Homo sapiens: one gene and its partner. The protein of the gene in region 1 interacts with the protein of each later gene in a biochemical or structural test. Each region holds a gene or a part of one and is shown in the gene's direction. Other genes may lie near its edges.

The links.
Region 2: of the proteins of TH (region 1) and TYSND1, one has a biochemical effect on the other in vitro, tested with the Homo sapiens proteins (one study listed by BioGRID).

The regions. Positions count from the first base shown.
Region 1 is NC_000011.10:2,166,082-2,169,157, reverse strand, and holds part of TH (tyrosine 3-monooxygenase), read left to right. Parts: intron 1-492; coding exon 493-667; intron 668-978; coding exon 979-1,067; intron 1,068-1,224; coding exon 1,225-1,292; intron 1,293-1,672; coding exon 1,673-1,723; intron 1,724-2,125; coding exon 2,126-2,271; intron 2,272-2,389; coding exon 2,390-2,525; intron 2,526-2,608; coding exon 2,609-2,678; intron 2,679-3,076. UniProt on the Homo sapiens protein: Catalyzes the conversion of L-tyrosine to L-dihydroxyphenylalanine (L-Dopa), the rate-limiting step in the biosynthesis of catecholamines, dopamine, noradrenaline, and adrenaline. Uses tetrahydrobiopterin and molecular oxygen to convert tyrosine to L-Dopa.
Region 2 is NC_000010.11:70,137,481-70,140,590, reverse strand, and holds the end of TYSND1 (peroxisomal leader peptide-processing protease), read left to right. Parts: intron 1-449; coding exon 450-667; 3' UTR 668-2,610; downstream 2,611-3,110. UniProt on the Homo sapiens protein: Peroxisomal protease that mediates both the removal of the leader peptide from proteins containing a PTS2 target sequence and processes several PTS1-containing proteins.

The DNA.
Region 1 (3,076 bases):
AGTTTTGTGGCCCGAGGGCCACTGCGACCCACCGCCCTTGTTGCTAGGCAACAGGAGGTGGGGGTGGAGCGGACCCTTCTGGCCAGTGTCCTGGACGCTCAGGGGCCAGTGAGACTCAGGGCCCATCCTACAAACCTGGATGAGGCCACCAGGGTTGGGGGCACCTTCTGACCAGTGGCTGAGGAGCCGGACTGTGTGGCATGGCCTTGGGACACACACACCGAGCCGCCCAGAACCAGGTTAAGCCTCAAGCGGTGACAACTCCTGGTTAGGCACGTAACACAAAATCCAACTTGCCAGTGGCAAACCCTGGCCTGGTGGCCGACAGCTGACCTGAGCCTGGAAGAACGGGATCTGTGTGCTGCTAGCACAAAAGTCAAGGGCAGGGCCTGGCCAGCCAGCCAGATGTGCCTCCTCCCCGCCCACCCCACCCTCTCTCTCCATCTCTGTCTCTTTCTCCTTCTCTCTCTCTTCCTGCTTTTGCTCCCTAAGACGTTTGAAGCCAAAATCCACCATCTAGAGACCCGGCCCGCCCAGAGGCCGCGAGCTGGGGGCCCCCACCTGGAGTACTTCGTGCGCCTCGAGGTGCGCCGAGGGGACCTGGCCGCCCTGCTCAGTGGTGTGCGCCAGGTGTCAGAGGACGTGCGCAGCCCCGCGGGGCCCAAGGGTGAGGCGGTTTTCTGTCCTTGAGGGCCACCAAATGACCTTGAGAGGCTGGGGTGCAGGGGCTCCTGCAGGGGGACCCTACAGTGACCACGTGGTGGTGGCCTGGTTCCCTCTCTGCGGGCTCCACTCCGCACCCCGTTTTGCTACACATCCGTGTCCGGGCCTGGGGCCACTCCAGGATCCCCCCGCAGCTCTCACAGCCCCGGCTGCCTCTGCCCCCCGGAAGTCTTGTAGGGGAGGCTGCTTCAAGGTGGGTGACACAGCCCCACGGCTCCGAGCTCACCAAGATCTCTTCCTCCATCACCCATAAAGTCCCCTGGTTCCCAAGAAAAGTGTCAGAGCTGGACAAGTGTCATCACCTGGTCACCAAGTTCGACCCTGACCTGGACTTGGACCACCCGGTGAGTGGTGCGCCCCTCACTCAGGCCTCCTGCCCCTGATCACATCCCCTACCCTTAGCCCAACCCTGGACAGGAGTCTGTCGGCTCCAGGAGCCTCCGTGGCCTGTGCCCCCACCCCAGCACAGCCTCCTGACCCGTGCATCCCCTCTGCCCTCAGGGCTTCTCGGACCAGGTGTACCGCCAGCGCAGGAAGCTGATTGCTGAGATCGCCTTCCAGTACAGGCAGTGAGGGGCCCCTGCGCTCGGGACCCAGACTCCGTCCTGCAGGCTGACGCTGGACCTGGGGGGTGGGAGGGAAGGACAAAGGGGAGGACCCATCTTGTCACCAGCATCAGTGCCTCCTGCCAGGCAGCTCTGCTCCAGGGCTTTCCATGTCCCCAAATCCCAGTGGGGAAACTGAGGCCCAGGGGGGCTAGAGCAACCTGCCGAGGCCACATAGCCGGCTCACGGCACAGTCAGCTGGGGTGCACCCTCCTGTCCATCCTCCAACCCAAAGGCCTCGCTGCACTAGGCGGGTGTGGACCTGTGCCCAGTGAAGCTCCCTCCCTCCCTCCTGCCCTTCTCACTCCCCGAGGGGACCTGCTGACCACTGGCCCCCTCCCCAGCGGCGACCCGATTCCCCGTGTGGAGTACACCGCCGAGGAGATTGCCACCTGGTGAGACCTCCGTGCAGCTAGGGGCTGGGGAGGAGCCCGGGGGATGCCTCCTGGAATCCTGGCGTGTGAGGGCCGCCTCCAGGGACCTTGGCACAACAGGAGAGACTAAGGCCGGGAAGAAGAGGGACTTGCAGGGCTCAGAATGTTGGGTTGGGAGGAAGAGGCTACCCATCCTGTCGGGCCATCCCCAGTGTGCTGAGGGACCGCCCCTCATGGCCCCCTATCCCCTGGGATTCCCTAAAGCCACCAGCAAAAGCCCCTCCCGGGGGCCTGGGTCTTCAGGGGTCCCCAAGAGGCCTGCGTTGGTAGGGGCTCAGGCAGGCAGAGGCACCCACAGTTCAGGAGGGGGGTTTCGGGCACTGGGGTGGGGCATTAGAGGGCCCTGAGCCTGGCTGCCCGCAGGAAGGAGGTCTACACCACGCTGAAGGGCCTCTACGCCACGCACGCCTGCGGGGAGCACCTGGAGGCCTTTGCTTTGCTGGAGCGCTTCAGCGGCTACCGGGAAGACAATATCCCCCAGCTGGAGGACGTCTCCCGCTTCCTGAAGGGTGTGCCCAGACGGGAGGGGCGCAGAGCCGGGGGGCCGGGGATGGTCAGCCAAGCGCCCCACCCCAGCGCGGCTCCAGCCCGTCCCGGCTCGGCAGTGACCCGCGTGGCCCCTTGCAGAGCGCACGGGCTTCCAGCTGCGGCCTGTGGCCGGCCTGCTGTCCGCCCGGGACTTCCTGGCCAGCCTGGCCTTCCGCGTGTTCCAGTGCACCCAGTATATCCGCCACGCGTCCTCGCCCATGCACTCCCCTGAGCCGTGAGTGCGCGCCCTGGCCGCCAGCCCGAGGGTGGGGGGTGCGACGGGCGGCCCCTCAGCCCCCTTCTCCCTCCTACGCGCAGGGACTGCTGCCACGAGCTGCTGGGGCACGTGCCCATGCTGGCCGACCGCACCTTCGCGCAGTTCTCGCAGGTACGCCGCGGCCTCGGAGGGAGCCGGGGTCACCCAGGGGCTGGCTTGGCGCCGGGGGCGGGCGGGGATCGATGTGCGGGTGGGTGAAGTGTGCTGCCTGCTCCCGGGCCCCGCCAAGGAGGCTCGGCGCCCCGAGGGTCGCGCGGCATAGGGCGGGGCTGGAGCGGAGCCTCCCACGGCCTGTGCTGCCACCTGCCGGCTACCTGGGAACGGCGCCCACGGGCTTAGGAATGTGGTCAAGGAGGGCTGCCTGGAGGAGGAGGCCCGGTGGAGGTGCGGATCCTGGGCGGCCAGGGAAGGTCTCTGCCGCCAGGGAAGTGTCCCAGAGACCCCTGGAGGGGCTGCTGACACCCCCGGTGCCCCCACCTCGAGCATGACCCAGGGCTGCCTCTCCCCAT
Region 2 (3,110 bases), on another chromosome or scaffold:
ACCGAGCAGGCCAAACAAAATATGTCTGTGGGTCTGATTCATTCATTCATTCATTCATTCATTCATTCATTCATTCATTCATTCAACAAGCCTTTGTTGCGCGCCTACTTGGCACAAGGCACTGTTTCAGGTACTGGGGAGACTGCATGAACAAAACCTCAAAGTCCTGCCCTTATGGAGCTGACACTAGGTCGAGAGAAAGATAACAAGTGAAATAAGTGAACTATCTAGTGTGTTAGATTTTGAGAGTGTTAAGGAGAAAACGTAAAGCCAGGAAAGGGTGTGGGCAGCAGGTGTTCATGTCTAGAAGCTCAGCGTCTGTCACCACGTGGGGTGGTATCCAGCCCTACCAGGCCCTGGGGGCTCCAGGGTGGAGATGGTCCTCCTCCCTTCTCCAGCCTTTCTGCCCCCTGGCTCACATCCTCTTTTGCTCTCTGACTCCTCAACAGGCATAATCACCAGCAACACCCGGGACAATAATACGGGGGCCACCTACCCCCACCTGAACTTCAGCATTCCCATCACGGTGCTCCAGCCGGCCCTGCAGCAGTACAGCCAGACCCAAGACCTAGGTGGCCTCCGTGAGCTGGACCGCGCTGCTGAGCCAGTCAGGGTGGTGTGGCGGTTGCAGCGGCCCCTGGCAGAGGCCCCGCGGAGCAAGCTCTGAGGCTGTGTTACCACCTTTGGAAAGAAGAGTGACCTTTTTCTGCTGTAGGAAGTGATGTTGAGGTGACGGTGGCCTCAGGATTCAGGGCCCAGCCCCTGCAGGGGCCCAGGCTGCCTCTCATCTCCACCCACTGACTGCAGACTGGGCTTTGGGCTCTGGGGCAAACTTCTCTTCAGCCCCATGGATCCTTAACCTGGCAGCCCGTTTTGGGGTGCTTTCTTGAGCCCCCAGTTCTCTGTCCCCTAGCACTAGACTCAGCTGTATTGTTTTTCCTTCTGGGGAGCCCACTCCAACTGCACAGAAGTTCTGGGCCTGACAGGTAGATTCCAGCTGGAAGGCAGGCCCGTGCCTGGTTTTGCGTCTGTTCCCCTGAGGGCCATCGTCATCCTGGAGCTTCAATGGGGCCTTGGCTCCTGTCTGCCTCTCAGTCAGAGTCAGGGCTGACAAAGGACTCAGCTTCCTTAGCATCTCAGCAGAAACCTTGCTCTGAAGACCAGAGACAGAAGGGACAGAAACAGGAGTGCCTCCTGCTGTGCCAGGCCCATGGGCAGTGCAGGCAGATCCCTGAAGGTCAGCACTCCTGGGTCTTCATATGCCAACAGGGGCGCTCTTGACACTGTGCCTTCATTTTCCAGCCCACAGCCTGGGTCTCAGGGATCTTGAGGGGTAGAACATGTCTGGTTGGGGCTTGGGAATAAACATGATCTATTGAAAAACCTCTGTATTTATATATCAAATTGTTTCTTTTTTTCAGGAGTTGAACTGGGAATAGGCAAGTACCAGGCAAAGAAACACACCCTTTCCTTTTTTTTTTTTTTTTTTCTTTAGAGCTGTGGTCTTGCTCTCTCACCCAGGCTGGAGTGCAGTGTTGCGATCACAGCTCACTGCAGCCTCAAACTCCTGGGCTCCAGGAGACCTCCTGCCTCAGCCTCCTGAATAGCTGGGACTACAGTCGCGCACCACCACGCCTGGCTAATTTTTTATTTTTGTAGAAATGGGGTATTGCTTTGTTGCCCGTGCTGGCTTCAGCCTTCTGGTTTCAAGCAGTCCTCCTGCCTCAGCTTCCCAAAGTGCTGGGATTACAGGTGTGAGCCACTGTGCCCAACCCAGAAATACACCCTTTCTGTGCTGTTTTCTCAGCAGGGTGTGAGCTCACGGGATACGGTCCTGCCAGACTGGCCCTCATAGCTGGTCATGTGCCAGTCAGAGCTGGGTGGGGCTTGCAGGTCCCGGAAGGTGGTGGTCTTGACCTGGCAGCAGATGCTTAAAGAATGCCTAAGGTGGGTGGCAGTTGGGGAGTTCAAGGGTGAATGAGGCCAGGGCAGCCCCCAGGAGCTGAGGCCAACTCTTTGAGTCAGGACTGTGCCGTGTGCCCAGGGCCTTGCATGTGTGGGCCCTCGAGTGATTTCTACTGGCAGGCTGAAAGCCCTGTGAGGGGCGGCTGTGGGCGGAGGCCACGCAGGAAGAGTGCTTAGGAGTAACTTGTTTCTAACACCTGTGTGCTGAGTGCCAATGCTGGGTGTGGTGTTATGATATATATTGGTTTTCATCCAGCATTCCTGACTCGTAACTCTCATAGTCCTTGTTCCAGTCTTTGTTAGAATACTGGGTATGTTAGGGCTTGGGACAGGCCTCTGACCTCTGGGTATCCTTTCACTAATGTTCGCCCACCTTTTTCACAGTGGGTCCTAAAGACCTTCCCATGAGAGGGTCTCAATCCTAGGGGAAGGAATGTTGATGTCATGAACCTTCCATAAAAACCCAAGAGGACAGGGTTCAGAGAGCTTCTGGATAGCTGAACACCTGGCACTTCCTGGAGTGTGGCGTGCCCAGGGAGGGCACGGAAGCTCTGCACTCCTTCCCCTTCCCTCATTCCTTGCTCTATGTGCATCTCTTCATCTGTATCCTTTGCGATATCCTTTATAATAAACCGGTAAACATAAGTAAGTGTGTCTCTGAGCTCTGTGATCCACTCTAGCAAATTAATTGAACCCAAAAAGGAGGTCGTGGGAACTCAACTTGAAGCCAGTTGGTCAGAAGTTCTGGAGGCCTAGACTTGTGCCTGGTGTGGTTGAGGGGGGCAGTCTTGGAGACTGAACCCTCAACCTGTGGGGTCTGACAATGTCTCTGGGTAGATAGTGTTGGAACTGAATTAGAGGACACCCGGCTGATGTCCACTGCTTTTGGTGGGGAAACCCCACACACATTTGGTCACTGAAGTCTTCTGTGTTGATGATTGTGATGGCATGAGAGTAGAGGGAAAACACGATTTGAGGAGAGTTTTTCCTAAAACACGGGGCAATCACAGAACACTCCTGGGATGGTTGTTCCTCCCTTTACAGATTAGGAATGGGTCCAGAGGTCATGGCTAGTTTAAGAGAAGTTCTACAGTAAGTTAATGGTAGCAGAATCCTAGATCTGAGGTCTGACTTTGCTGTGAGAG